Regions from separate parts of the Homo sapiens genome. Here region 2 is linked to region 1. The links come from fine-mapping of genetic effects on gene expression. A gene starts in region 1. The other region holds a variant in brackets. All regions are shown on one strand. Distances are from middle to middle.

Region 1 (16,408 bases):
AGGATACAAACAAATGGAAGAACATTCCATGCTCATGGGAAGGAAGAATCAATATCGTGAAAGTGGCCATACTGCCCAAGGGAATTTATAGATTCAATGCCATCCGCATCAAGCTACCAATGACTCTCTTCACAGAATTGGAAAAAACTACTTTAAAGTTCATATGGAACCAAAAAAGAGCCTGCATTGCCAAGTCAATCCTAAGCCAAAAGAACAAAGCTGGAGGCATCACGCTACCTGACTTCAAACTATACTACAAGGCTACAGTAACCAAAACAACATGGTACTGGTACCAAAACAGAGATATAGATCATTGTAACAGAACACAGCCCTCAGAAATAATGCTGCATATCTACAACTATCTGATCTCTGACAAACCTGACAAAAACAAGCAATGGGGAAAGGATTTCCTATTTAATAAATGGTGTTGAGAAAACTGGCTAGCCATATGTAGAAAGCTGAAACTGGATCCCTTCCTCACATCTTATACAAAAATTAATTCAAGATGGATTAAAGACTTAAATGTTAGACCTAAAACCATAAAAACCCTAGAAGAAAACCTAGGCAATACCATTCAGGACATAGGCATAGGCAAGGACTTCATGTCTTAAACACCAAAAGCAATGGCAACAAAAGCCAAAATTGACAAATGGGATCTCAGTAAACTAAAGAGCTTCTGCATAGCAAAAGAAACTACCATCAGAGTGAACAGGCAACCTATAGAATGGGAGAGAATTTTTGCAATCTACTCATCTGACAAAGGGCTAATATCCAGAATCTACAATGAACTCAAACAAATTTACAAGAAAAAAACAAACAACCCCATCAAAAAGTGGGCAAAGGATATGAACAGACACTTCTCAAAAGAAGACATTTATGCAGCCAAAAGACACATGAAAAAATGCTCATCATCACTGGTCATCAGAGAAATGCAGATCAAAACCACAATGAGATACCATCTCACACCAGTTAGAATGGCAATCATTAAAAAGTCAAGAAACAACAGGGGCTGGAGAGGATGTGGAGAAATTGGAACACTTTTACACTGTTGGTGGGACTGTAAACTAGTTCAAGCATTGTGGAAGTCAGTGTGGCGATTCCTCAGGGATCTAGAACTAGAAATACCATTTGACCCAGCCATCCCATTACTGGGTATATACCCAAAGGATTATAAATCATGCTGCTATAAAGAAACATGCACACGTATGTTTATTGTGGCACTATTCACAATAGCAAAGACTTGGAACCAACCCAAATGTCCAACAATGATAGACTGGATTAAGAAAATGTGGCACATATACACCATGGAATACTATGCAGCCATAAAAAATGATGAGTTCATGTCCTTTGTAGGGACATAGATGAAGCTGGAAACCATCATCCTCAGCAAACTATCGCAAGGACAAAAAAACAAACACTGGGCCGGGCGCGGTGGCTCACGCCTGTAATCCCAGCACTTTGGGAGGCCGAGGCGGGTGGAACATGAGGTCAGGAGATCGAGACCATCCTGGCTAACAAGGTGAAACCCCGTCTCTACTAAAAATACAAAAACTTAGCCGGGCACGGTGGCGGGCGCCTGTAGTCCCAGCTACTCGGGAGGCTGAGGCAGGAGAATGGCGTGAACCCGGGAAGCGGAGCTTGCAGTGAGCCGAGATTGCGCCACTGCAGTCCGCAGTCCGGCCTGGGCGACAGAGCGAGACTCCGTCTCAAAAACAAACAAACAAACAAACAAAAAAAACAAAAAAACCAAACACTGCATGTTCTCACTCATAAGTGGGAATTAAACAAGGAGAACACATGGACACAGGAAGGGGAACATCACACACCGGGGCCTGTTGTGTGGTGGGGGGAAGGTGGAGGGATAGCATTAGGAGATATACCTAATGTTAATTGAAGAGTTAATGGGTGCAGCGCACCAACATGGCACATGTGTACATATGTAATAAACTGCACATTGTGCACGTGTACCCTAAAACTTAAAGTATAATAAAAAAATAATAATAATAAGGTTATTTCCTCTTCTTTTTTTTTTTAATCACCAGACCCTGGCTCTGAACTGACAGCAGTTTATTTCATAAAAATGAACTAGAGGCTACCTTTAAGGCGCTTACATTCTAGAAGGGATCAGGGAAGAGAAAATAAACAGTAACACAAGTAAATAATATCAGGTGCTAATAGAAGTATAAAAAATACAGAACAGACTCCTGTGCTGGGGGTTGCTGGTAAGAGGTTGACTGTTGGGAGTGGGGGCAGTAATTTCAGTTGACAGGTGGGGACAGCCTCTGTGAGGGGGGAATATTTGAACTGAGCATGGGAACAAAGATTTCCAACCAGAAAATGCAAAGCACAAAGTTCCTAGCACAGAAAAAGGCTTTGTATTATTTTGCTAGGGCTACTATAACAAACACCACAGACAGGGCGACTTAAACAACAGAATTAATCTTCTCACCATTCTGGAGGCTTGAAGTCCAAGATCAAGATGCCAGGGTTGATTTCTTTTAAGGCCTCTCTCCTTGGCTCATAGATGGTTGTCTTTTCCTTGTGTCTTCACCTCATTTTCCCTCTGTATGTGTCTATAGGTGGAAAAGCAAACCATTTTCCTCTATACTCTCACAACACGCCTGTGACACCAGATGTGTGGGGATTTCTCCCATCGGCAAGCAAGTGATTGCACAGAGGACAACAGCGGGGTGTCCTCCAATTCAACTCAATTCTGACAATATCTACCTGGAGAGGGCATCAGATCACAAAGGTTGAGGACTCAGCTGCACAAGACTGCCCTCCACTTCTGACAACAATTGCAAGCCCCAGGTTATTTTGCCCGTGCTTCTGACTCACCAAGTATAAACCAGGGCTCCCACGAGCTGCTAGAGCAGGTCACAGAACTCAGGGAAACACTTACTTGGTTTATTACACAGGATATTTTAAAGGATACAAATAAACAGCCAGATGAAGAGAGGCATAGGGCAAGATCTGGAAGGGTCATGAGCCCAGGAGCTTCTGTCCGGGTGGAGCTGGGGTGCACCACCCTCCCAGCTCGTGGATGTCTTCTTGTTCATCTTCCTGGAAACTCTCGCATGCTCAGCTATCCACAAGCTCTTCCAACCCAGTTCTTTTGGGGTTTTAATGAAAGCTTTGTTACACAGATATGACTAATTAAATCAATCAGTCATTGGTAATCAACTTAAACCTCAGCCTCTCTCCCCTCCCTGGTTGTTGGGTGGTTGGAGTGTGGGGCTGACCACATGGCTAGTTCTCCCCTGGCAATGAGCACCCCATCATTTGCCCACCCTGAGTTTCCAAAAATCACCTCATTCACACCAGCTCAGATGTGGTTGAAAAGGCTTTGTTACGAATAACAAAAAAACATCTTTCTCCCTCACTTCTCTGAAGCTGTTTCTAGGGTGTTTCAAGAACCCAGGACAAAAGGCCAAATAATTTAACAAAAGATATTCTTATTGCTCTAGTCACTTAGGAAACAGCAAGGCTTACAGGAGCTGAGAACCCGGAATCATGGACAAAACCCAAAATATATACATCATAATATCATGGTCGTATTGAGTATACGTCATATTGGATTAGGGCCCACCCCAATGACCTCATTTTACCTTAACTGTCTCTGTAGAGGCCCCATCTCCAACTACAGTCACATTCTGAGGTACTGGGGCTTAGGACTTGGGCATATGACTTTAGGGGACTGAAAGGGCACTATTTGGCCTCTAATAGGCTGGGTGTGTTTTAGGGATAGAAAGAGCACCAGAGCGGCTGCAGTGTGGTCCATCCAAAGAGAGTAAATTGGGGGAAAGAGGGAGAGAGGACTCTGGATTTTATTCCACCTGTTTTTCCAAGGCTTAGCACAACCATAGCTAAGCCCTTTGTATGACTTCAGTGCTTTATTCAGTGTATTTTATTCTCAATATTTTTTGCATGGCTTACATATATCATTAACTTAGTGTATAGCGTTATATGTTTTCTGTGTTATTTTGAAATCACTGACACATAATAATGATAAAATAGTTCTTATGTCATACTATCATCATGAAGATCTAACTAGATTCAGGTAGGCACTCAGCACAGTCTAAAACATGGTAAGCACTCGCACATGGCAGCTACTTGTCATCCTCCTCATCATCGTGTTAATGGAAAGACCAAACTTTAAAATATTTTAAAGAGGCTTACTGTGAACTTGTATGAGTGACCATGGCCCAGGGAACAGTCTCAAGAGGTCCTGAGAAAGTGTGTCCAAGGTGGTCAGGTTACAGTTTGGTTATATACATGTTAGGGAGATGGGAATTGTAGACCAATTAATAAATCAATACAAAGCCAGGTGTAGTGGCTTACACCTGTAATCATAGCACTTAGTGCGCAGATCACTTGAGCTCAGGAGTTTGAGACCAGCCTGGGCAACATGGCAAAACCCTGACTTCACAAAAAATACGAAATTAGCCTGGCATGGTGGTGCACACCTGTAGTCACAGCTACTCAGGAGGCTGAAAAGGGAGGATCCCTGGAGCCCAGGCAGTCAAGGCTGCAGTGAGCTGTCATCATGCCACTGCACTCCTGGTGACAAAGGGAGACTGCCTCAGAAAAAAGTGGGGGAGGGCAGATTTTATGGTTTGTAGGATGTGACTTAACCCCTGCCTTGCATGGCCTTAGGTCTTCTTTGTAATTTGGTATCCCATTGCCACAAAGATTCTGTTTTGCCAGTCTTGTGACCTCTATTTTAACCTAAACCCCAAAAGAGTACAACAAGGTGTGTTCAGCCTCCCTTCCTGGCATGGCCTGGAATTTCGTTTTTTGGGTTTCTCTGGGGTTCCCTCAGCCAAGAGGGGGTCTGTTCAGTTCAGTCAGTTGGAGGGTTTAGGATTTTATTTCTGGCTTGCAATCATCAGGAGGCAAGCCCTAGTTCCCAGTCAGGGGCAATGTTCCCCCTAAATGCCAAAAAAGAGGACAACTTGAGGCTTGTCCTTGAAAAGCCTTCTCCAGACACTTCCTCAACTAACTACAGAGCTAGCTCAGAACATGAGAAAACAATACACTCGCCATCTTTGGAACACTGTAAGGAGACAGACTTGCTCTGTTTATTGGGATCCACCCACCTGGGACTGGGATTGTGCTGGCCTAGGCTGGAGGAAAGCTCACCCCACAGAGGGAAAGCAGACTTTCTCCCTCACACCTGCCACTGCCTGGCCCAACAGCGGAGCCTCTTGCCGGCCTTTCCCCATGCCCCAGCTTCTAAGGCAGCCCTTCCGTGCAACGCTCCTTCCCTAGCACCTGGAGCTACATAACCCGAACACAAGATAAGTAGAAGGGAGCATGTGAGAGTTTTCTGTCCCCAGTTGCTGGATAGAAAAGCCCTCAGAAAACTCCAGAAGGGCTCTGGTTTGTATGAACAACTGTTTTGTTCCATGGTGAGCAAGTAAGAACTGTTAAGTCAAGTGTAGCCTAAAGGTGCCTCCCTACATATTTTAAGTTCTGCATAAAGGTTTCTCTGTTCATAGCGAACTGTAACTTAACTGGATGTGTCAACAGACTATAGCCTCCTCTTGTGCCAATCACCAAGTTTTGGCCAATCAAAGGAAACCAACTGTTCAAACCTTGTTCAAATAAGGCAAATGCCAAGCTGTAACCAATCTGGCTGTTTCTGTACCTCACTTCCATTTTCCATATGTCACTTTCCTTTTTCCATCCATAAATCTTCCACCACGTGGCTGTGCACTGGAGTCTCTGAGCCTACCTGGGCTCTGGAGGCTGCCCAATTGGCGAATCGTTCTTTGCTCAAATAAACTCCATTAAATTTAATTTAGCTAAGGATTTTCTTTTAATGTAACAGAAGCCTTCAGTGACACTAGTGGCGATAGGTAAAAAGAAGCAGGTGAATCAATCACTTGGGCCACTGGGAAAACTGAAGGAGAGAAACGGGAGCCTCCCAGGATACCTTCGGAGATTTACACCAAAAAAGAGGTCCCACAACTACCTTCTCTCAAACTCATCTAATTCCTCAGCTGTTCCTCACTTCCTACCCCCATCCTGCTTGAACTCATGCCACAGGCCATGGGGATCACCACCTAAAGACTGAAAACGGAATCTCCACTCAGTATTCCCGAACATATGAGGAGACGGGAGAGGCAAAAATAAGTATAAGGGAGAAAGAAGAGAGTAAAGCAGAGGCTGAGAAAAAAAAGGGTAGGGTTATGTTCCTGGCATCCACTTGGGAACTCTGAATACATTCTCCTGATACAGTCAGCTAGACCAGTGGGTAGAAATTAGAGTGGGGCCGGATGTGTGTTTAACAGAAGGATATGTTTTCTACTAATAAGACATGCCCTAATGTTAGTAAGCTGCCTTATGTTATAGAGTGCTCCCAGTCACTGGGAAGATTTAGACAAAGTCTGGATTGCCCTGTGCCAGAGATGGAGTTGAATGGACTCCCTTCTTAGATGGAAAATTGAGCTAAATCTCCCTTTCAGAGGGAGAATCTTTGATAAGTTACATATAGTGAATCTACACAGTACCATAGGTATATTTGTAAAGAGGTAATCTATAAACCATTTGAACTTGTTATTGTTCATTCTTTCAGGTACTGATGTGTAAGAGCACTAACAGGACCATTTGAACAAGTTTACTGAAAAAGTAAAATCCCCTCTATCATGGGTCACATAGGCTCTGATGACTAGCCTGGAGAATGGCCTCATGTATGACTTCGTTTCTATTGGAAAGAATGAGTTCAGTAGGGATTCAACACATTTTTACAAATGTTTTCTTTTCCCGACCACATGTGGTAAGCAGAATAATGCATTCCCCCACCAAAAATATTCATGTCATAATCCCCGAATCCTGTGACTGTGTTGCCTTACTTGGCAAAAGGGACTTCACAAGTGTGATTAAGGATACAGGGCTTGAGATGTGGAGATTATCTTGGATTATTTAGGTAAACTCAAACTAATCAAGAGAATGCCAAAAGCAGAAAACATTTTCTAGTTGAAGCCCATCAGAGGAGATATGTCTATGAAAGAATGGTCAGAGAGATGCAACTTCGCAGCCTTCAAAGACGAAGGAAGGGGGCCATGAGCCAAGAAATGCAGGCAGCCTCTACAAACTGAAAAAGGTGAGGAAAGTGATTTACCCCTAATGCCTCCAGAAAGGAATGCAGCACTTGATTTTACCCAATAAACACCTTTATTTTAACCCAGTGAAATTTGCATTGGACTCTTAACCTATAAGATAATACATTATCTTACCATAAGATAATACATTCATGTTTTTTAAACTATGAAGTTTGTAATAATTTGTTACAGCAGAAATATAAAACTAAGATAACACTAAGGTAATGTCTGCTTATTTTAAGAACTTTGGAAATTTTAGAAAACATTTAAAATAGAAACAAAAGTCACCCTTAATTCTACTCCCCTATAATATCCATTATTAACTTTTTGAGGTACATCCTTCCAGTCTTCTTTTTCTTACAAAATTAAAAGCACCTTTAATCTATATTTAAAAACATAAATGTATACTTTTTCCCCATCAAAAGTAGAATCATTCTTCATGTTATTTTTATGATCTGCTTTTCTTCAGTAGTGTGTGAATATTTCCCCACAACATTATATATTTTCCGTAGCAGTGTTATGTTAGTTACATAATATTCCATCTTACAATTTTAAGATCAAAATTATGTGAACAATTCTTTTAGAAATAGACTAGGTTGTACACATAAACTTGTAATTATAGATTGCATATATGTGTATTTTTAAGTTGTACAATTTTATATTATAATGCAGCTATGTTGTACTCACTTAAAACCTGGAACAGTATGTATTATCACAATTATTTTTTCATCACTTTGTCTTTTCAATCCCATTCGAAGACCTTCCCATTTAGAAGTTACAGATGTGTCATCATTACTTATAATCAGTCCTGCATTGGCCAGCAACTGTCAGGATAGAAAAGTTCAAATGGTTTATAGATTACCTCCTTATAAATACTCCTGCTGTACCGTGTAGGGTAGCTATACCTAACTTATCAAAGAATCTCCCGATTCTTTGATAAATGTTGTCTTCGATTCTTTGATAAATATTGTCTTCAAATAACTGAATATTTGAATCTTCTTATCTCCTGATTCTTTGATAAGGGAAGGGAGATTAAGTTCAATTTTCCATCTGCTAAGGGAGTCCACTCAACTCTATCTCTGGCACAGGGCAATCCAGACTGTCTAAATCTTTCCAATGACTAGGAGCACTAAAACATAAGGCAGCTTAATAACATTAGGGCATGTCTTATTAGTAGAAAACATAACCTTCTGTTAAACTCAGGTCTGGCCCCCCTCTGATTTCTACCCACTGATCTAGCTGACCCTTGGAAGAAATATGCAATAAACTTACACCTTCAAATATTCAATTATTTGAAGACAACATTTATAATCTTTAAGAGTGTGGCTCTGCTGAAGGAATGTTGGGATTTTGAGGTCATAGTAGAATTGTAGTTAAGTGTGGTCTCTCTTAAAGACATGTCATATGAACATTCTGTTGCCAGTCCTCAGTAATATCAGGCAATTCACCTAGAATTCAGAAAGCAACAAATAGAACAATTCCTCTCTCTTGGGACTTCATTTTCTTGGATCTGAATTTTTAAGTCCTGAAGATTCTGAAATATTCCAAAGGATTAGGAGTTTAAAATTCTCTCTTCCTCATGGAGGAAAACCAGGAGATATACAAAGAGGTATCCTGCTAGAGGATCCCAGGCTAACGATGGATTAGGGAAGAACAGGCAAGATTATCTAGTTTATATTATTCTATTTCCACTTTGTTAGTGACTTACACTTAATTACAGTCTTAATAAATATTCTAGTTTTGTCTCAACTGTTATCTGGGTATTATGGCAGGAGACTTATTTAAATATAGATCATGAAGCCCCCTTGGTGTTAAAGGGCAGAATTATCCTCCTGGCAGCAGTAATTAGCAAGAGACCTTTAAGGTAGGAATTACACATAATGTCATTTTTAACACCAATACCAATCAATTAGTAGTGGCTGCCTGAAGCCACATCCAGATTCAAGCAGGAAAGAATGCTTTGATCAATTAGTACTCCTATCAATCATGAATACAACAGAGGAAGTGGCAACACTGGTGAATGATGAGTATCATCCCTGACCTAAAGAAAGTTGCATATCAAGGAACAGGGTTAGGGCCTTGGAGGATCTGGGTTTTCTATAATTAAAAAGGACAATTCTTTTTATTAAGGAAGAAAAATATATTAAGGAAGTTATCATTTACCATATAATTTCACATCATAATTTCTTTGGGCAATTGCCTTCATTTCCTTCAAATGTTCATCACCCAACATGGTTTGCAGGTCCTTTGGCATGTGGATTATGCATGATGAGGCACATTCTGGTTTATCTCTGTACATTCTAAAATGCTGTGCCCAGAACTCCCTGGAAAGGGGTGGAATAGGGAACAGCATAGACAAAAAGATATCCCCAAGTAATATTGGAAATGAAGAAATAGAATAAAAACCACAAAACAGCAAGAATAGCCTCCAACACCTTTATTAAATCTAAGAGAAACAGTAGAGGTGTGTCTAACTAGTATGGCACCACCAAAAAGAAGAGGCAGGCAAAGAATCTAAGGAAGATGCCTCCAGTGAAAGAAACTCCAGTGCTAGCCAGAAACTTACAGTCAAGGGTAGGCAAATTTTTATTCTGCATTTGAAAAAGATTGATAATTTAATAATCATTGCAGAAATAAAGGTGAACTACTTCATTAAATAACATTTAAGAAATAAGTATTAATTACAGAGAAATATAATATTAGAGTTTTATATACATAAAGTAAAAGTACCAAGGCTGAAACACAATTGTAAATGTTCAGTACATTCTTGGGCCATTCCAATCTATTCATTTACACCTATGATTATTTTTCAAATGTACCTGAAACTAAAAATCACAGGAAAGAATAAATTTGAAGAGTATCTATTATTCCTTAAGAGAACCATGTGGTCTCTAATTAAAAGCTGTGTAGTCCAAAGACCTCGTATAAGGCTGGCTCAGTCCCAGAAGTAGCTCTCCTGGCTACACGTTAGAGATACCTGGAGAGGTGTTTTGTGCTTGTTGTTTTGTTTGGTTGTTGTTTTTTTTTTTATTTTTTTTTTTTTGAGACGGAGTCTCGCTCTGTCACCCAGGCTGGAGTGCAGTGGCGGGATCTCGGCTCACTGCAAGCTCCGCCTCCCGGGTTCACGCCATTCTCCTGCCTCAGCCTCCCAAGTAGCTGGGACTACAGGCGCCCGCCACTACGCCCGGCTAATTTTTTGTATTTTTAGTAGAGACGGGGTTTCACCGTTTTAGCCGGGATGGTCTCGATCTCCTGACCTCGTGATCCGCCCGCCTCGGCCTCCCAAAGTGCTGGGATTACAGGTGTGAGCCACCGCGCCCGGCCTTGGTTGTTGTTTTTATTAATTCCAAAGTTAGCCAATTAAATCAAGCTTAATCTGCAAAAACCTCTTCAGAGGATTCTAATCAGAAACCAGGTTGAGTCCTACATAAATTCTAACGCAGTTTTGCCTACGTTAGATTTGCTAAATTCAATTCTCTAACAACTACTTAATCCAGCATGCCAGCTGGTAGGATGAAAATTGACCATGAGCTAGGGAAATTAAATTCTTCCTGCTCTGTTTTTATCAGATAACTCCTCTCTGTTCCCAATTAAGCCATGACCCAGTACTTTCTCATTTATGTAAATTGTAGATGATGTGTCCAAGCGAGGAGGACATAAGAGAAGCAAGGTGCCAAATAAAGAATGAGAGGTCAAATGTGTAAGTAATAAAAGTATTTCTTCAATCACGTTTGTCAGTTCAAAGCTACGAAGACTTGGTTCCAAAAGTGCAGATATTTTTTAACAAAGTAAGAGCATTTGGTACATTTTTTGGCAGATGGCAAGATAAAGTCCATTTGCTTAAGAAGCCACTCCTTCTTTGATGTGGTTAATTATGACCTCTTGGGGTACATACCAACCTTATCAAAATCCATCTGGGTAGTGCTGTGTCTTGTAAAAATGCCTCCTCTTGTTTTACTATTAGTATTGCTTTCATGTCAACAGTGTTCTTGACACTGCATAATCCCAGGAAGACGGGGTTCCAAACCAGTGATTTGAAACCTAAATAACAGACTCAGCAATTGAGACATAAAACTACAGGTGGGAATGTGGGCAAATTTGAAGATTGTAAGTTTCATTTCATTTTTCTTCAACCTTCCTTTTGTCGTCCATCAATCTATACTTTTTTTTTTTCTTAGACGGAGTCTCCCTCTGTTGCCCAGCGTGGAGTACAGTGGTGCAATCTCGGCTCACTGCAACCTCCACCTCCCAGGTTCAAGCAGTTCTCCTGCCTCAGCCTCCTGAGTAGCTGGGATTACAGGCACATGCCACCACGCCCAGCTAATTTTTGTATTTTTTTCTTCTTTTTAGTAGAGATGGGGTTTCACCATGTTGGCCAGGCTGGTCTCAAACTCCTGACCTCAGGTGATCTGCCCACCTCAGCCTCCCAAAGTGCTAGGATTACAGGCATGAGCCACCATGCCTGGCCCATACTTTTTCTCATTTTCTTTTCTGTGTTACAGAATACAATTTGCTGACTGTAAGGGGGAGAGTTTTTTTCCCCAAAATGCCAAAGTACATAAAGATAAAGGTGAAAGTTTCCTCTCACCAGTTCCAGTGTTAACAGTGAGGTATGTGTTATTCCAGACATTTGTTCCCATGCGTATACAATACTTAACTTTCACTGTTGCTTTTTATTAAAAATTAAAACCATTTCACACAATATGAGTTTTGTAAAGACTTTTTAGGAAAGAATTTTCTTGTCAGTCTGATGGATTCAGAGGGAAAAGATCTAAAGGATAAGTGTGGGCAAGAGGAAAAGACAAAAATGGAACTAGAAGAAAATGAGAGAAAGTCTTCATCAATAAATGGAGAATTAAAGAAAGACTTCGCTATTGCTCAAACAGTTAAACAGAGGCAACAAAAACAATATGGAAAACAAAAAGTCTCTATCTTATTCTCAGTGGTATGTATACCCAGGGCATCAGAACATAGCATAGTAGGTGCTTAATAAATATTTGTTTACTAAATGAATACCATACAGTCTCACTTGTGTTGCATGGCCTAGATCAAATTAGAACCCAGGAAGGCAGAGGTAAGTTTATAATAGTTAACAAGACAAGAAATTAGCTCAAGGAAAGCATTTTGATATTGAGAGACATATTAACATTTGATGCTGGCTTATACATGTTTAAGAGAAAGAATCCAGAGGTAAAATAATAGGAAAAAGCCAAGATAGATAAAATATAGTTATTAATTACAGCAGATACAGAAGGAAAACTATAAAGTATTTGTTAGAGAACGTAACCAGACAGGGTAAGTTGGGGAGCCCAGAGAATGAATCAACATTTGTGGAGTTATAGCATGTGCCAAACTTTTTTTTTTTTTTTTTTTTTTTTGAGACGGAGTCTCACTCTTGCTGCCCAGGCTGGAGTGCAGTGGCATGACGTCGGCTCACTGCAACCTCCGCCTTCCGGGTTCCAGCGATTCTCCTGCCTCAGCCTCCGAAGTAGCTGGGATTACAGGCGTGTGCCACCATGCTTGGCTAAGTTTTTTTGCATTTTTAGTAGAGACGGGGTTTCACCATGTTGGCCAGGATGGTTTCAAACTCCTGACCTTAAGTTATCGGCCCACCTCAGCCTCCCAAAGTGCTAGGATTACAGGCGTGAGCCGCCGCACCCAGCCAGCACGTGCCAGACTCTTTCACCTGGGTTATTTTATTCATCTGCATAACAAATCTGCAAAGGAGCAATTAATGATCTTCATTTAAAGATATGAAAACTGAGGCTCTGAAAGGTTTGGGGTCTCAAACCTCTTAGATAATAAAGAGCAGAAGCACTTTTCCAAACCAGGCCTTGGTCCTGTAAGCCCAGGCCTCACTCCAATTGACCGAAGCTTCCTCCAGAGCAGTATGTTGTGGGAATAAGCTCATCGGAATTGTAAACAGTAGCGTAGAGTCTCACTATTCAGAGCAAGCTATAGGGACCATTATCATGGGCATCAACTGGAAGCATGATCTTGGGCCCCACTCCAGAATTACTAAGCAACAATCTGTATTTTAACAGATCCCTAGGTGACTGGTATGCATATTAACATTTGATAAGCCCTCATTTGTCTATTTCTTCTTGCAATTAAAGAGAGAGAGAAGCACTCATTAAACATCATTTTCCCTGAATTCAGCACCACCCATTTGGGAGAATTTCAAGGATTCTCTAAAACTAAAATGCCTGGAAACAGTGAGAAGCTAGTTTCCATTAGGTGCCTTGCCAATTGCATACTGGACTCTCTTTAATCATTGCATCCTTGTTATGTACATATCAAATGGTTCATGTAGTGGAACAGAATAAAACAAGTCAAAAGTCAGGATTACTCTGATTCAGTGTAGAGTAGGCTGATACATCTCAGCAACATCCACTTAAAATGCAATTCTCTGCCCACGTTCTTTCCTTTCCTTCCTATCCAAAGATATATGACAGCCAACTTTAACTCCACCTCTACTGCTTAGACCTCAAAAACAACCACTCACAGGCTGTGCATGTGTGTGCTGGGGATGAAAAAGCACATACTTTGGAAACTCTCCCAGAGCTTCTATGCACTACTAGGGTTTAGGTAACCAAGTCTTAGAAGGCCTTATTCTGGTGTGGTCCCTCCCACTCACTCACCCAGAAGATGCAGCTGGCTCTAGACAACTGGAAGTACAGAGCTCTCTGTCATTCAGTACCCAAGGGCCTTGAGAAAGCCATTCGTCCTTTCTGTGCCTCAAATGCCTCACCTGTAAAACGGGCCTTACCTAGTTCACAGGGAGACCAGGAGAATTAATTAGTGTTTGTAAAGCTCTAAGATACCCTAGATGAAAGTGGCTATATAAGTGTAAATGATTATCATTATCATTATTATTATTATTACATAAAGTATGGATGACAGATTAAGTATGGGATTATATGTCAACCTCCTGGGGATGGCAGATTTCTGGATAAACAAAAAGTGCTGTAGACTATTATTATCCACCTGCCTTTCCCATGTCTGTTCAGGAATGCATCATCATGTTCAGTAGGCTAATCATACAGCAAGAAGTCTTCCTTAGTTCACCAGAGATGAATTCAGAAGAAATGGTAATGAATGAAGACTAGAAAATCTCTTAAACTGTGTATCTCCAAGATAAAGCAGAATTTGCTACCCACCTAAACTGTAATCATCTGATAAACGGGGATGGAGCAATTTTGAACCCAGCCTATCACTGAACCAAGTTACCAAGTCAGTCCAATTAAAAGTTTGCATTTTCCTTTCAGACGTACTACAAATGAAAGTATAAATAAATGCTCAGAAAATTTAAAATCTCTGCCAGATGATCCCTCTGCATAACAACAAAGTAAAGGAAATCTGTAGGGGATTAAGGCCACTTCTGTTCACCCTGAGTAAAACTGAATCAGCCTCACAGCAGATGTTCTGTCCTCTTTTTTCCTTTTCTGTTTTTTTTTTTTTTTTTTGCTACAACCTGGCCCTACAGTGTATGTGTGTGAAGAGGCTGGAAGTTCCAGGTGCCAGCCAGGCAGATCTGCCACATATAGAAACCAGAAATTCTAGGAAAAATAGTTAAATAAGAGGTACTTAATGTAGGTTCCCAGCACCCTATGGGCATCGTGGGTCTGAAAGTTTTCATATGCATGTGAATTTTTACACAGCTTTCATAGATTTTCAACAGTTTCTGTGACCTCAAAGGATTAAGATCCAAATGTTTTCCTCCCATTTAATTTCGCTCTCTGTGGACACACACAATTTCAGTTCTCCTGAAATCCTAATTCACAGTGCTTCCTGATACGGAAGTGATACCTGCGTCTGATAACATGGTTTTCCCAACAATTTCTCCACTCTGATATGCTGGCCATTATTAGGAAGAAGCTTAAGTCAACACGAGTCATAGAACCTGAATCTGGTTCTAATTTTATGTTTAGTTAGGAGTATTTTTGGTGTTCCAAACCTTTCTCTATTTGAAATAACATTTGTGCTTTGCTGTTCAGATTTTTTACTACACTTCTAATGCTTACACTGTTCATTTAACTGCCCTTTCACTGGATTAAAATGACCAGACTATGATTGAAATCTGGTGGAGTGGGAGCTCAGTCTGAGAAAGTATGAATCTTTATTTTATTTCAGATAAGCTCCTGGAAAATGTACATATTTTCCAAAGCAATCAATCAGAATTCACTTGGCAACTAAGCAATCCTACAGGCCCCAGTTCCCTTATGTGATTTATGAGACCTTCTCTTTCCAATAAAGTTGAAAGTACCAGGAGAATAGCTTCTCACCCAGCATTTTTTAACTGCAGCTTCCAAGCTAAGCCAAGAATTAGAAAGGCACACAATGGATGCAAAAATTCAGAAATGGAACACATTCTATGTGGAGGCAGAACATCCTCCTTAAATCACTTTCTAGCTCAATGTCTCTGCATTTTTCACTGATGCAAATATTACATGAAATACTGCTTTATACTATAATTCATAAAGGGTCATGCAGCATTGGGTAGTGTGAGTTTTGAGGGTTTTTTTAATTACACAAACCACCTTGAGGGAGTCAAAAGAACATAGGACTGAGAGGCAGGAGGCCTGAGTCCTAGGTCGCTGCTTGCCTCTTGAGTGAACTATCACTGCCCTATTTGTAAAATGAGGAGGGTCTATAGATAGCCTCCAGCTCTAAAGCTCTATACCACTGAACTCTACATGAGTACTCTAAAGATTATTTAGAGGCATCCTGTTGAGATTTCTGATCTCCCTGGCTACCACAAACATTAATTGAAAAGCTGTTTTATGCTAGAAGCTGAGCCTAGTGCAAGATACTCAAGATAAATAAGACATTATCTCTGCCCTTCAAAAAGCTCCCAATCTCGCTGCATACCATTAACATATTATGAGCTTAAGTTAGAAAAATCAGCAAAGTTCCATGGGCACATAGAGGGAGAGAACAAGGCAAGGGCATTTGAAATAAAGGAGGCAGGATTGGATACAATGACTAACGCCTGTAATCTCAGTACTTTGGGAGGCCAAGGTAGGAGAAGGGCTTGAGCCCAGGAGTTCCAGACAAGTCTGGGCAAGATGGCAAGGACTTGCCTCTACAAAAAAAAAAAAAAAAAAAAGCCAGGCGTGGTGATGCACACCTGTGGTTCTAGCTACTTGGGAGGCTGAGGCAGAAGAATTGCTTGAGCCCCAGAAGTTGAGGCTGCTGTGAGCCATGTTCAGGCCACCGTACTCCAGCTTAGGTAAAGGAGAGAGACCCTTTCTCAAAAAAAAAAAAAAAAAAAAAAAAAAAGGAAAGAAAAAAAACAAAGA
Region 2 (16,408 bases), 38 kb after region 1:
TATTATTTTATAATGATCTGTGATCCTATTTTGAGCAAGCGTTTTAAACTTTTGATATTTGACAAACTTTCCTAAATCAACGTTTCAAATTCTAAACTCAGTTTTTTTAACCTCAGACTAACTTTATTTATATTACGCCCCCTGGAAGTTCAAACGAGCTATATTAGGATTATTTAGTATGTTAAAATCATACAGGAAGCATTGTCAAATATGAAATGGTGTTTAACTTTCTTTGCATTGTATTTGTGTAAATGCATTATTAATATATATTCCAAAATTATGAGATTTCTAAAATTCTGATATATTTTAGTATATGTTAATAATAATTATGATTATTATGTTAAATTATTGCATGTCATAGAAATAACCAAATGTCCTTGTCAAATGTCATTAGCCATAGTTATTCTAAGATTTTTGTCATCCACAGACAATTATTGTTTTACTATGATTCTTCTCAAAAAGTGGTTTATAATCAGCTACAGTATAAAATTGCTTCTTTAAGAAAATGTGTGGAAAAGGCTCTGACAAGTACTCTTATTCAGGTTTCTGATAGCTTTAGAGATTATACCATTGGAATAAATAAAAACTTCCAGCATTCATGAGAATTGCTGGCCCAACATCAGGCAAAACAAGAATTAATTACATGGGACTGAACTAACAGAGGACTAAAATGATGTTTTATGATTTCTTTTGTTTGAAACACTGCTTTTTTTTTTAACGTTTTGTCTTCCAGGGTCAAGAAAACTTTTTCTTTTGAGCTATTCAAGCTTACAACAAATTGGGTAAAGTATATTTTGTGAGCAAAACCTGAAGCTTTTATATTTCTCTCTAACTCATTTCTCCAGAATTTGGAAACTATATTTTTAATTTATAGCAATATAGTTATTTGCATAAATTCAATAAAGATCTGTTGTATTTATGTTTGTTTGTTTGTTTCTCTAACAGGACACAATTGGAGATACTGGTTACTTTACAAAGCATTTAACTGGAATGGCATATTTTCCATAATGACCAGACTGCTTTGAGGAATTAAGGTTGACTTATAAAGCTCAAAAAAAGCTTCTTGGAAAGGCTGGTCTGGTATGTTGTCTGCAAGGTTCCTTTACAAGTTCCCTGACCTTTGGTAACTAAGGAATGTCACTTTCTGACAGTCCCAGGAACCTCAAATTATTTGAGCACTTTGAGGAAAGAGGAACTCACCCAATTCATACAGATATTGCAATAGTCTGATGGCAAATCCTTGGCATGGCTTCTAGCCTTGAGGCTTTTAAAAGTCTAATCTGAGATTCCTTATGAAAAAGTTCCAGCAAAGTCAGTCTTAAAAGAGTTTATATGCAGCCTGAATGACATAGTAAGAATCCCATCTCTAAAAGAAGAAGAAAAATAAATAAAAATAAAAAAGCCTATATAGCCAATCACAATTCTTGCTGCACTTTATGCAAATAACCAGGCCAAGTATAATAAGACTAAAACTTATCTTGAAAATACATTTGTCCTACTGTAATTTGTCTTTGGTAGAAATAGAGGACCGTAGAAATAAAAATTATGTTCCAAAAGAAAACTAGAGTATACCTGTTATGAGATTCCAGCTGTGTCCATTATTTTTGAGTTTTTATTATATGCCTACACTTTGGATTGAATTCTGAATTTTTTTCTGGCCACACGTCTCCAAACTAATATTTCCAAATGCTTCTTTCGTTTTCCTGACTTGGAATCACTAGACACTAAAACTGTGCTTTTCTTAAAGCCTTGCAAACTGAAGCTAAGCAACTTAAATGAACTTCAGGAGAAATCCAAGCAACTTTTATAAATCATCTTCTCACCTCCTGATGTATGGACTACTCAGAAAGTTTACTTGAACACTTAATTCAAACTACAATCCAGAAAAATCTGTCAGATTGCCATTGCAATTTGAAGATGCTTCAGAGACTCTAGAAAAATTAGTCTATAGAGTACTCCAGATATTAACCTTTTTCTTCTTTTTCCATAGAAATGCCTCTTATTAAAGATCTGTTTGCCTACATCATATGTAGAGGCCTATCCTATCTGCAATGCCACCTCTTAGAATGGGACACAGCCATTTAACTAAACTGATCTATTCTCAGGGCTAAGAGGCTGATTAAAGAAGATATGGGTTGATATATTTAAAGTCGTTCTTTTGTGTTTATCCCAATTTGTCTCCACTCCTTTGTCTAGCAACATCTAGCCCAAATCCCTCCAGTGGGATCAACTTGGTTTTTAATATGTGAAAATTTTTTAACGTTTCAAAGTGGAGTCTGAAGGAAAGAAAAATATTTTTCCTCAAAATACACTTCTTTGACATATTTTTGAGATGGCTACCAGAGAGCCAGCAAAATGAAGTAGCACCCTCCAAACCTGTGGTTTGTGGAGAAAATTTGCATCTGTAGAAAATCTGCATTGATGCAGCCAGACACTCCCTCATCCAGACCCAGCAAACATTAACTGAGAGTCTGACATCTTTAAAGGACTGGGCGGGGGAGAAATTTACCATTTAATCTCACTGAGGACTGCTACCTCTGAGGTTCCATTTACATAATAAGATCACTTTTGCTAGCCAAGTCTCCTGTTCTCTCCTTCCCATAACCTGTCTTGCCACTAAAACCCAATTTACCATCACAACTTGTTTTTGGCCATGCACCAAGTCCCCATTCTTTCTGTCATCTTGAGATGGCATATAAGCTTCTGCACCCCAGTGGGGAGTTGGGTCTTCATTCTGAAGTGTTCCCATCTACAATGTAAACATTAATGATAAATTAGCATACTCTTTCTCCAATTAGCCTGCCTTTTGTGGAGTGATTTGAACCTTCTGAGGACAAAGAGGAAGTTTTCCTTTTACCCTTGCACTTCTTTACAGCTTCCTTGACCAGGCCCTTGCTTACACACCCAGGATCTCAGCCTCATCTCATTTTGCAGCACATTGATGTTCCTGTCTTCCCCCAGTCCTCCTCTTCGCCATACAAAGTTGTGCCACACATGTTCTGCATCTGTCAGAATGACCTGCAGCTACACACTCCAAAATACTTACACACACAGTATCTCCTGAGGATGTACATAGGTTCACTCTCTCTCTCTCTCTCACACACACACACACACACCACACACACACACACACACACACACACACACACCACTCAGCTCTTACTATCCTAGGACTCTCGGTCGGGTCTTTGACAAGCCAAGCCTCCCCTTGCTTGCTGTGTCTTTCCCCCTCCTCTAGGCTCTGCCAGGCATGACTCATTTGCCACTTTACTCCATCCCATGGTTCCTGTAGATGGCAGGGGGAAGTGGGATCATTGGCCGTGAGTACCAAATGATCTATTATTATGGAAAATTCTTTTCCAGATGAAACTCCTTGGCCATCTGGCAAAATGTGTAATGAGGGGAAACCAAAAGGAGAAGGAAAAACCCATGAAACATTTGCTCATTTCAGGTTGGGAAGGAAGATAAAAACAGAATATGGTCTACTCAAATGCATCTACTAACACAAAGCATAAGACAGAGCAGCCTATATTAGTGAAAGAAGCATCTGTATTTCACCCCTGTGCACATAATAGTTATTATTGGTTTAGAGATGGGGTCTCGCTATATTGCCCAGGCTGGATTTGAAGTCCTGGGCTCAGCCTCAAGCTTCCATCTCAGCCTCCCACCTCAGTCTCCCAAGTAGCTGGGACTACAGGCATGCACCACCATACCTGGCTGATAATATTTATTTATTTTTTTTTTTTGAGACAGAGTTTTGCTTTGTTGCCCAGGCTGGAGTGCAGTGGTGCAATCTCGGCTTACTGCAACCTCCGCCTCCCAGATTCAAGCGATTCTCTTGCCTCAGTCTCCCGAGTAGCTGGGATTACAGGCATACACCATCACGCCCAGCTAATTTTTTGTATTTTCAGTAGAGACAAGGTTTCACCATGTTGGCCAGGCTGGTCTCAAACTCCTGACCTCAAGTGATCCACCTGCCTCAGCCTCCCAAAGTTCTGGGATTATACGCGTGAGCCACAGTGCCTCGCCTGGCTCATAATATTTAAATTGTAGATTTGAAACTAACTTTTGCCAGGAGAAACTTGTGAGAGGCAATATTTTTAATGGTGTTAGTTGGGGAGAACATTTGCATTTTTGCCTGATACAATGTGTGAATAACATTTATTTGCCTTGCTCTTCCTAAGTAAAAGTAAAAACCATTCTGTGATTTTTGTTTATGTTAATTTATGAAAAACATTTTAATGTCAAAAATAAAAAATTATCTAACATTTCCATTTTATGCCCATATTCTGAATATGTACTCTCCCTGATTTTTAAATATTCTACTCATGTAACCTGAAATCAGAACAGCAAGTCCCAAGGACAGAGTTAGAATCATAATATATTCCTTCTCTTATAAAGCTATAGATCAGCCACAGTGAAGATTTGTCCACTTTATTTCCAACTGAGACAGAATTTTGGCATGAGACAGAGAAAGAATGTGCTTTATGAGAAACAGACAATGCTGACTTTTCCTCAACTTGGCTCTGACAAGCAGAAAGTTATTTTCCAGTAATGAAAGTACAAGAATATTTCTGTTTGGATAATAATCATATTTGAATTAGTCACATGAAAATGGGATATGAATTATCCATGTCAAAAGGGGAAAAGAGAGTGGTGATTATCAAAACACTTTCAAGGTCCTCTTAGTTTTCCTGGTATGCAAAAAGATGCCAGTATGCAAATTTCAAAACATCTTAATCAGCCTTTCAAGAATAAATCATTCCTGAGTCCTTAGATCCCTAGGGAGGGGCCCAAGACTCAGCATTTTATCTGCCTAAGAAGACCAAGATCTTTCTGTTGGGTGCCCATTCCCATATGTGAAACTTTCAACTTTGACTCTGCCTTTTAGATCCTTGTTTCTTTCCTGATTGTAGCTACATCGTGCTCTTTATTATTTGCAGTCCTTGGCTCTGGTCTCCCACCTCTTGCACACGCCACAAATTTCCCCTCAAGGAATGAGTCTATGACTGTGAAAGAAAAAAAGAAGAAAACCTCCCATTTCCCAGCTTGGTGAGGAACTGTGTGTTTACACTTTTCCCTCTTCCCCTCTGTATCTTCATCTGCTTCTTGGAGTGGTGACAATGCCAACTGCAACACTGACTCGACAAATGCAGACTAGTGAAGATTCTTTTGATTAGAAGCAACAGAAGAAAACTTCACACTTGCTAGAGCCAAAAAAACAAGGTAGGAGAAGGAGATTTATCATAAAGATACAGAGGTGATTCATATAACCCAAGAACAGGAAGACAGCGAGGCCTCAGGAAGACTAGAACAGGGAGGGAAGAGGGGTGAAAGCTTTCTCCATGTCTCCTCACAACCCTTCACTTCATCCTTCTTAATGTGATGATACTTGTCCACCCAGTGAATATGAAATGGCTGCCCATAATTCCAAAGTTTCAGTCTCACAGAGAGACAGAGCTTCCTTAGAAACCCAGGGGAAAAAAAAAAAGTTCTAATTGGCCCAGGTGCACACCGTTGACCTAATCAGCCGTGGCCAGGGAGGGAAGGATCAGATTCCCATACTGAGAGGTGACAGCGTGCTGGCATCCCTCACAGCCCTTGCTCACTCTCGGGGCCTCCTCGGCCTGGGCTCCCACTCTGGCCACGCTTGAGGAGCCCTTCAGCCTGCTGCTGCACTGTGGGAGCCCCTTTCTGGGCTGGCAAGGGCAGGAGCCAGCTCCCTCAGCTTGCAGGGAGGTGTGGAGGGAGAGGCGCGGGCTAGAACGGGGGCTGCGCGCGGTGCTGGTGGGCCAGCATGAGTTCTGGGTGGGTGTGGGCTCAGGACCTGCAGCCCGCCATGCCTGAGCCTTCCCCCCAACCCACCCCCCGCCCCTACCGTGCGGCCAGAGCCTCCCTGACGAGTGCTGCCCCTGCTCCACGGTGCCCAGTCCCATCGACCACCCAAGGGCTGAGGAGTGCGAGCACACGGGGCAGGACTGGCAGGCAGCTCCACCTGCGGCCCTGGTGCAGGATCCACTGGGTGAAGCCAGCTGGGCTCCTGAGTCTGGTGGGGACTTGGAGAACCTATATGTCTAGCTAGGGGATTGTAAATACACCAATCGGCACTCTGTATCTAGCTCAAGGTTTGTAAACACACCAATCAGCACCCTGTGTCTAGCTCAGGGTTTGTGAATGCACCAATCGACACTCTGTGTCTAGCTACTCTGGTGAGGACTTGGAGAACCTTTGTGTCCACACTCTGTATCTAGCTAATCTAGTGGGGACGTGGAGAACCTTTGTGTCTAGCTCAGGGATTGTAAACGCACCAGTCAGTGCCCTCTCAAAACAGACCACTGGGCTCTCTGTAAAATGGACCAATCAGCAGGATGTGGGTGGGGCCAGATAAGAGAATAAAAGCAGGCTGCCAGAGCCAGCAGTGGCAACCCCCGCCAGTGGCCTTCCCCACTGTGGAAGCTTTGTTCTTTAGCTATTTGCAGTAAATCTTGCTGCTGCTCACTCTTTGGGTCCACACTGCCTTTATGAGCTGTAACACTCACTGTGAAGGTCTGCAGCTTCTCTCCTGAAGCCAGTGCGACCACGAACCACAGGGAGGAACGAACAACTCCAGACGTGCCGCCTTAAGAGCTGTAACACTCACCGCAAAGGTCTGCAGCTTCACTCCTGAGCCAGCGAGACCACGAACCCACCAGAGGGAAGAAACTCCAAGCACATTCGAACATCAGAAGGAAAAAACTCCGGACATGCAGCCTTTAAGAACTGTAACACTCACCGCGAGGGTCTACGGCTTCATTCTTGAAGTCAGTGAGACCAAGGACCCACCAATTCCGGACACAATATCACTGCTGGAAGCCCACCATTAAGAAAGGGTGATGCCGGGTGCAGTGGCTCACACCTGTAATCCCAGCACTTTGGGAGGCCAAGGAGAAAGAATCACTTAAGGCGAGGAGTTCAAGACCAGCCTGGACAACATAGCAAAGCCTTGTCTCTACAAAAAAAATTCAGAATTAGCTGGGCAACATAATGTACACCTGTAGTCTCAGCTACTCAGGAGGCCAAGGCAGGAGAATCCCTTGAGCCCAGGAGGTCGAGGCTACGGTGAGTCGTGATTGCGCCACTGCATTCCAGCCTGGTGATACAGCGAGACCCTGTTACTAAAATAAAAATAAAAATTTGTTTTTGAAAATAAAGGGTGAGAGAGTAGTCACATACTGGGAAGATACAGGATAATAGTGACCACCGAGTGACTGAACAGGGAACACTAAACTAGGAAATGGGGTGGGATGACAGGACGTGAAAAACCAGCATTATTTTAGCCATTAGAAAAAAAAATTGTGACCAACGAAGCTTAAATAAGTGTAAACCATCTAGAATCCCAACATAATAGAAAGATTAAATGTGTAACTTGGGGACCTATAAAGAAGCACCCTTTTTCTCTCCTCAGAAATCCGCTGGAAAATGATCCCACTAAATTATAATTCACATGGAGTAAGGCTTCTTAAACGCTCTGATAATTTTTTTTTTTTGTAAACTTTCTGTGAGAATTTGTGTCAGTGAAGAGGAGTGAGAAGAAAAGGTCTGATTGAGATGTAGCGAGTGATTTCCTTCAGTTGTGCCCCACAGACCCAGGAGAGAGAACTGCTCCTTCGGGCCATCAGAAAGCCTGTGTCATCAGCAGAAGCAGCACCACCTCAATCTGTTTTTTTGGCTGTGGTTCCTTTAGCCTAAAGAACAATTTAAAGCCAGGCTCTCAGTAAAGGCAGCTCCTACTACTCACCATCTTCCAGACCAGAAATCCAGC[G/A]TCCTGGGTGTTGTAAAGTTCCTGAGTGTCTGTGACACATCACTGCAGCTACTCTGTCTCCTAAATATCAATAGGATGTTGAGAAAATAAAGTGTCTGCGAAAGTGAAGGATGCACAACATGCAACACAAGGCTGGAAGCTCAGGTCGATTTTACCTAAGAGTCCATCACAGGCTGAAACCCACAGGCCAGGGCCCAGCTGTGAAACCAGGCAGAGCCTCCCGGGTATGTTGTTGTTGTTGTTGTTTGTTTGTTTGTTTGTTTGTTTGTTTAAAGGCATGATCGGCCTAAAACTATCTCTGGGGACCAACATGAAATCTAATAGTGTACAATTTAATATATATAAAACATAGTTCATCTTGGAATAGTGTCTACAATTAGAGCTATTTAACAAGAAGTCAGCAACTAGCAAACAGCGTTAAGAGCTTAGCTTCGGGCAAGTTTGCCAGATCTCCCACATAACTGCAGCCCACTCCCAGGACTCAGGAACGCTGATGTGTCACCTTCCTTCCCATCTGTCCCAGGGAACACTCATCCTCCATGAAAACGTGGCAGTAGCCGCAGAACTCCCTCTCTGCCTCTCCTCTTCTCTGCAAAGAACCTTAACTTAAACGGGAAAACAGCAGAGGAAGAAAGAGGAATTGATGGGAACAGGGCAAACATGAGCTCATTTAAAATGCAAGAATGATGTTGTTGACTTTAACTCCAAAGCGAAAGTCTGCAAATGACATCTCCAGTCAACTCAGTAATGCAAAACATGCATTCAAGTTGGTAAACTCCCTGTGAGGAAAGATGAACTTCACGGACTTACCGGACTTCTTGCCAAAGAGTTCTCCAAAGGCTCCAGAACCATTTTCTTTAATGGTAGTGTTACCAGAAAGGGGTCCCGATCCAGACCACCCCAAGAGAGGATTCTTGATCTCACGCAAGAAAGAATTCAAGGCGAATCCACAGAATAAAGTGAAAAAAAGTTTATTAAGAAAGTAAAGGAATAAAAGAATGGCTATTCCATAGGCAGAGCAGAGCTTGGGCTGCTGGACTAAGGACACTTATAGCTATTTCTTGATTACATGCTAAACAAGGGGTGGATTATTCATGAGTTTTCTGGGAAAGGGAAATTCCCAGAATGGAGGGTTCCTCCCCTTTTTAGACTCTACAAGGTAACTTCCAGATGTTGCCATGGCATCTGTAAACTGCCATGGCGCTGGTGGGAGTGTCCGTTAACATGCTAGTGCATTATAATTAGCATGTAATGAGCAGTGAGGGCGACTAGAGGTCACTGTCATCTCCATCTTGGTTTTGGTGGGTTTTGGCTGGCTTCTTTAATGCAACCTGTTTTATCAGCAAGGCCTTTGTGACCTTTATCTCCTGCCGACCTCCTATCTCATCCTGTGACTAAGAATGCCTGTCTCAGGGAAATGCAGCCCAGTGGGTCTCAGCCTCATTTTACCCAGCCACTATTCAAGATGGAGTTGCTCTGGTTCGAATGCCTCTGACAGTAATATGAGCCTCAGAGCCTTATTAAATACTGACAAGATTTCAGCTCCTGCCACCTTCACCCTTTTGGGGAGTATCAGAGTTACTCAAAATCAAATATGTTCTCCAGCTCAGAAGCCTCATTCCTTCCTTTGATCAGTTAGTCATTCGTTATTAAATACTTTTTTTTCCTAGTATCTACTAGATCCCAGACACTTTAATGGACGCTGGGGACACGGCAATGAATAAGACATAGACCTTACTCTTAAGGCTTTCAGTGGATGAAGGAAAAACAATGATAGAAACAGTATGCATTGGCTGCTTGGAATCCCCTTGAAACTTGAAATCATGCATGGTAGCTCCTAACCCTACTGAGCAGTGTGTGGCACGACATTCTCCACCCACTTCCTATAGTCAACTGGTTTCAGTGTTGAAAAAGATGAGTGTTTTCTGACAGTGGAAGTACCAATAAGAAGGTAAAATATCACCCAATGTATAAGGAAATTTGAGGGAAAAAAGTAAATAAATTACAATCTTTGGAGAGAAGAGCCAGGCTACAGAAGCACCAAACAAGGAAACAAAATTTTTTCAAATGAAATGTCTAAGATTGAAAGAGTAAGTTTTAGCAATTAAGCACATGCCTACAAGCCAGAATGCCAGGATTTGGGTAGAGTAACGGACAGTCAAACATGTACTCCTAAGCCATACATTGGTTACTTACTTAAAATCTCCCTTACTTAAAATCTCCCCTAGCTTCCTGTTACTCACTTAACAAACTCTAAGTACACATACTCACACATATAGTTCATTCATTCAGCAGAACCTCTAATATGCTATGCAACATTGTAAGCAATGATCCCTGTCCTCAAGAATCTCAGTCTACATGAGAACACAAATTTTTTAAAATGCAATATAATGTCCTCAGAGCCATAGTCACATTACGTACATTGTGCCAAAGAAGTACAATGAACAGAGCCAAATTCTCTCCCAGGGTAGAAGGGAAGTAAGAGCAGGCTTTACAGAGAATAGATATTCACATAACACTTGAAGAATAAGTGGGAATTCTGAAAGAGATAGAGGAAGAAAAAGCAATGAAGAAAATTAGGCAAAGCAAAGGGTTTGAAGTCTGATTGTACTTGCTATTGCCTATGGAATGATCCAGTTGTGAGATGGATCAGTCAGCCAACCTGCCCTGTATACACAGTCTGTACTGGGCAAGTATAACTCTGGGCTTCAGGAAATGAGAGGGTTTCTAGGAAAGTATTTATATTTGAGTCCTTTTCCTTTCGGGAGAAGATTGCTGAAAAGAATTGGATAGAAGAGAAAAACACTACATTCACCACTGACAATCATGTGTTTTGTATACCTATTGTAGCTTATGATTTTATCAATATATTTATCAATGTACTTATAATTTGATGCTCTTTATGAAAAAATCAAAGGTGCTTTTAGTAAAAAGTGAAAGGAAAAGTTGTCAGTTATCCAGGTGATCTGATACATGTAGATAATCTTAATAGCTTAAACAAAAAGAGATAATTTGACAATGATCTGGCATTTTAGGCTATATACATAATTGAATGATAAGATATATTTATTTGACACAAGTTTTCCAGGTGCCAGATTTGGTGCTAAATCATTTAAACAACACAACTCCCTCTCAGAGAGCATACATTCTAGTGGGGAAGACAGACAATAAAAATGTAAGTTCAAAAGATAAGTTTGTGACAAGAGCCAGGAGGCTTACAGTGGTATGCCAGACAGTCACTTCTTTTTGAGGCAGCTATACTTAGGCAGAGATTTGAAGTGAGGTTGAAAACCTTTACTTCCAGAGCTCAGTATCTAAATTGGGTTTCCACATAGATAAAATTAATAATTATAGTATAATGGGGGAAAGAATGAATTTTGCAGCTGACACATGGCATCTGAGTTTGGCCACCCTGGGTAATTTACTTCTCATTTCTGCACATGTGCTTCCAGATATAGCCATAATAGTGCCCACCTAACTGAGCCATTGGTGGAATTAAAAGGAGGCAGTATCATAATGAGTCAGATGTGTGTGTTTCTTTTCTTTTCTTTTTTTTTTTTTTTTGAGACGGAGTCACTGTGTCGCACAGGCTGGAGTGCAGTGGCACTATCTCGGCTCACTGCAAGCTCCGCCTCCCGGGTTCACGCCATTCTCCTGCCTCAGCCTCCCGAGTAGCTGAGACTACAGGCGCCTGCCACCACGCCTGGCTAATTTTTTTGTATTTTTAGTAGAGATGGGGTTTCACCTTGTTAGCCGGGATGGTCTCGATCTCCTGACCTCGTGATCCGCCCACCTCGGCCTCCCAAAGTGCTGGGATTACAAGCGTGAGCCACCATGCCCGGCCCAGATGTGTGTTTCTATATGAATTCATTTATATCACCCAGCAACCCTAGAGCACAGGCACCATTATTATCCTCATTATACAGATGAGGAAACCAAGCATCCAGAGGGTAGAAGTGGGGTTTAAATGGGGATGGTTTGACTACAGACCCAGGCTTTTAAAATACTATTCTATGCTGCCCCCTGGTATTAATAACTAGCAAACAGGGCTTAGTGAGTCTTTTTCCCCTTCACTTGAGACAAATACAGCTTTAGAAAACAGAAATTTTTTTACAAGTTTATCCTAAGAAAATAATGGATGAGCACAGAGTTAAAGTATGCTCATCACTACTAAAGAATGTTTATTGATTGATTGATTGATTATTTTTTAAGTTCTGGGGTACATGCACAGTATGTACAGGTTTGTTACATAGGTAAATGTGTGTCATGGTGGTGTATTGTACCTATCAACTCATCACCTAGGTATGAAGCCCAGCATGTTTATTTTTAAAAGTTGTTTTAATATCCTAAAAATGTATCATATAGCCATAAAGTTGTGGTTATAAAATAATATTAAATGGCATGGGAAATATTCACTATATGTTAAGTGAAAAGCAAGTTTCACCTGTCCAATGTGATCAATTGTTATAGTGCATATATGCCCAGAAAAAAAGACATGCATAGCGGGTAGAGAGAGCAGGGAGGAGGGCATTTCTGGCCTCAGCGGGATGCTTGTCCCTTAGGCTGTACAGGGTGGCTGGGGCTTTGTATTTTTGGATTTTTTTTTTTGTATTTTTCTATACTTTTCAAAATTTTTATGATGAACATATGTCTTTTCAGTACAAGAGAAACAATAGAAATGGAAGTTATCAAAACACTACTCCTTTTACAACAGCCTATTTGTCTTTGTTTATTCATACAATGTTTTTCTCCTTGTGGCATAATACTTCCATTAATGGAGATAAAGCATTCCTACCATACATTGCCTTCTCAGAAGTTTAATGAACGAGTTGGACAATCGTAGCCTCTACCTGGCATTTGCGCTCTCCCTCTGTTTGGCTGCTATAGGGCACCTTCTCCCCAAGCCTCTCACTCCGAATTTAGTGCTTTCCCTACAAAGGGTCTTACCCTTCTCTTGGGGTCAAAGAAAAATTGGGCAAATGAAATGTGTGTTTCTCTGTTAAAGAGGAGGGGCATCTGGTTCCTTGCTAGCTAGAACAATTAAAGCACTGATCTTTAACGTGAAACAGAGGTGAAGGATGGGATGTTAACAGCCACTCTGCCACCATGAGAAAATCGGACCCCATTTTGTCTGAATTTAACTGGAAATCTCATCAGCATTCTTCTATGACTCTAACTACAAATGTTACGTTTATGGTTGGAGAGCCCTGGAGTGCACTAACCTATAAAGCAGATAAATTAGAGGAAGGGATTCTGCATCACACACAAAAAGATGCTTTGCCTTACAAAAGATTCACCTCGGGGTCTTTTGACTATATGGACCCCTGTGAACAGCTGTTGTGTTGTTTACAGGTCATTAAGTATCTGGCTGAACGATGGGTTAAGGCCAGAGTGGGCTTCAGAGCTGGGGCCACTATGAATTACAGATCAATTAAATGTGGAAACAGCTTTCCAGTGGGGAATCCCACCCTTCTTTTCTGTCCTATGTCTGGGAAGGAACTGCTAGGGAGACAAGAAAAGACAGGCAGATTAGCAAGAAAGTAATTTGGGGGAACTTCTGAAAAAACTACAATGTGTGCATGCATAGAGGGTGGAGGGAGCGGGGAGGAGGGTACTCCTGGCCTCAGTGGGACACCTGTCCCTTAGGCTGTACATGGTGGCTGGGGCTTTGTTGCTCCCAGCAGGACTGCAGTGGGAGGAACCGTGAATCACAGATCCCTGTCAATGTTTGTCTCTGCTGTGGCAGCTTTGGGACAGGACCTCTTGTTTTGCAGACTCCAAAATTCTCCCTAAGAGATGTCTTAAGCAGAGGAGGACCCCCAAGGAAGAATTGTCACTGGGGCTCTCTAACCTCTACTGTAATTGACAGGCCCTGAAGAAATCTGTATCTCCATTAACTGATGGACTCAAAGACTACTAAAAATAGAAATAAGATCTACCCAGTTTAACTTATCTCATTCCCTCAAAATTCTATGCCAGCTGCTTTCTCTTCAACAAATTACAGAGCTGGGTCTCCCAGTCACCTGAAGTGAAGGAAGGTTTTAGGTTTAACCACTCAACCATTACTTTTCTGTTTCAAGTAATGAAAAATTTAATTTTTCTGGCAATTATTGATCTGATGTCAGTTCTTTATTCTACAGGTCATGATTTATGGCTACATCATGCGATGTGCATTGATCCAAGGCTTTTAATGCTCCTTCACAACATTTATTTTCCTACTAGTCTGAGAATCAGAGCCAGCACAGGATTCGCTTTCTGACCAACAGTAACATCATTGGTAGTGCCACGTAAGGGAGTTGACCATAACCGCCCCCTCCCCCCGGTATTAACTGGTACCTGAACTGTTTGGTACCAGCTCCAAATCCAAGGTGCCTACTTTGGCCAACAGAGGATCAGGATCCTTTCTACATACTGATTATACGACACCACTTTCACATTTCAGGAGTGGCCTCTAAAAGCAGTTGAACCCGTTGACCAATTATAGCCTAGAAGGACAGCTAAATAGTAATTATGTCAAACGCAACTCCTTTGTCAGATACACTGTCACATATAAATGGATAACACTAAACGATTTTATTTAAAAGATTTCCCCCACTCAGATATATAGGACTTCATTTCTGAGCTGAATTATCCTGGAACAAAAGTCAGGCTGTGACTTTTGTGTATTCAAAATCAAACATGATTCAGGAGTTAAATTAAGACTTCTCTAGAGAAGAAGTAAATAGGAATTTGGGTAATCTCTTTCCTCAAAATACTCCAGGTCAAAGTCTGTCCTCTGCATTTCTTAATGGGGTAGAATTTGGGGAATTCAATTAAGTATTTATTTAAATTCTTTAAGAGATGAAGAGCTCAGAAATGAGAAAATCCCCCACATTGTCTGTAGCAACTCCTGAGTTTATTCTTCGTTATTTTACTCCAGATCCTTTGTATAGGCATCCTTTTGACAAATTTCTTAAGAGCTTAAATTCTCCCTTTTAAGAATTTTTTTGAAAAAAGAAATTTAAAGCCTTTCTTTTGTGATAAACCTTGATCTTTGAGGGCTTTGCAACTAGTCATATTTCCTACCTTATCTTGGCATCTAGAAAGTACAGTGCCTGGGGAGAAAGACTGGGTAGTTAGGAGAAAAGGTGAGAGGGAGACTTTTCACCATATACACATTTTACCTCTTGAATTTTGAAACTTATGCATATATTATCTATTCAGAAAATTAATAAAATTTAAGTAAGAATTTCATGGCATAATGGCAACTTAGAAGACTGTTCTTTATTCTGCCATTATTTCCTTCCCATTTGTTGTTGAGAATGACTAGGCTTTGCTTTGTTTACTTTTATTATATCCTTATTTGGCCAAATTAAAAGTTAGCAACCCTATGTTATCCCTCTGCACTCTTTACTACTTGACTTTTGTCTTTGAATCTAGGTTTCAGGCTTTGACTCTGAATGTATGAATGCCTTTATTAAAAAAACATAGAGACAGGGTCTCACTCTGTTATCCAGCCTGCAGTATAGTCAGAGTATTGCTATGTTGCCCAGGCCGGTCTCAAACTCCTGACCTCAAGTGATCCTCCCACCTTGGCCTCCCAAACTGCTGGGATTACAGGCGTGAGCCACCACACCTGGCCTCTATCAGTACCTTTCATTAGAAACTGCCTCATTTTGTTTTTGAATTAGGCTAGATATAAACACACAAATGCACACGCACAAACACGCACCATACACATACACAGGGTCACACACTAAACTTTAGTGCTGAAAGTTCCTGTTCCCATCCCCTCACATGGTGAATGAGGAATATGCTACTGTTACTATGCCCTGTTAATGGTGGCCCAGGACCTAGAACCCAGGTCTCCATAATTCCCAGTCCATCACCCTTTCCATTAACATTAAAAATACATTTCAAATCAATCAGAAACATGATTTGATTTCTAAAAATACCGTTGCATACCACTTGGGAAAACCTAACAATTGCAAAAGGATCTCCAAGAAGTAATTTTTATCTTTATAGGAAAAAGAAATGAGCTCAGATATATTTTTTTCTTTAGCCGTGCTATTTATATTCAGTACCTCGTGTTACTTTGAAAAAAGGACATTAGTATAGTCACTTTCTGCTCTGTTGGCTCCTTCCTCCCCATCTCCGAAAGCTAAAATATAAACTCCTTAGCACAGCATCCAGCGTTCTTTAGATTTGTGCTTTCCCCTACTCTCTACCCCATCAAACTACTTCTGGGTTCCTAAACACACCATTTCACCTCATGTTTTCATGAGCGTGCACATGCTGCCCCTCCAACCAGGACCACTTTTTCCATCAAAATGATCCCTCCCACAATAATTCGTTCATAAAGACTCAATGTCACTTCCTCCAAAAGGCTTGCCTGGCCTCACAGATGTCATTAGTTACCCCCTTCCTTTGTGCTCCCATTGACACTTTGGAGATACCTCTTTTAGCACGTATCTCACCATTCATCATTCCTGGAATATTTGTCTCCCTAATAAAATTGTAAGCTCAAGAACAGCACTGCCATCTTTCTTGCAATTGCCTCCCCATTGTCTACCTAGCATTGTGCTCAGCATACAGTAGGTGATCAATAAATGTTCTCAGAAGGAAGAG

Evidence for each region. PIP is the estimated chance that this variant, and not a neighbour inherited with it, causes the effect.
Region 2: its variant is fine-mapped to the expression of LINC02402 in testis (GTEx, PIP above 0.99).

What each region holds. Positions count from the first base shown.
Region 1 is chr12:42,638,625-42,655,032 of GRCh38, reverse strand. LINC02402 (long intergenic non-protein coding RNA 2402) reads left to right here and starts at 8,535. Exons shown (of 6, transcript NR_110042.1): 1 at 8,535-8,763; 2 at 10,739-10,806; 3 at 11,609-11,716. LINC02451 (long intergenic non-protein coding RNA 2451) reads right to left here and starts at 8,450. Exons shown (of 5, transcript NR_135027.1): 1 at 8,379-8,450; 2 at 7,794-7,930; 3 at 2,450-2,573.
Region 2 is chr12:42,600,500-42,616,907 of GRCh38, reverse strand. It overlaps LINC02402 (long intergenic non-protein coding RNA 2402), which reads left to right. Exons shown (of 6, transcript NR_110042.1): 6 at 946-1,405. Among named protein-coding and RNA genes, the nearest start is that of PRICKLE1, 19 kb to the right of the region's middle. RefSeq lists a silencer at 5,095-5,295 and enhancers at 12,739-13,239, 13,240-13,740. The variant G/A (reference allele first, on the strand shown) is at 7,802.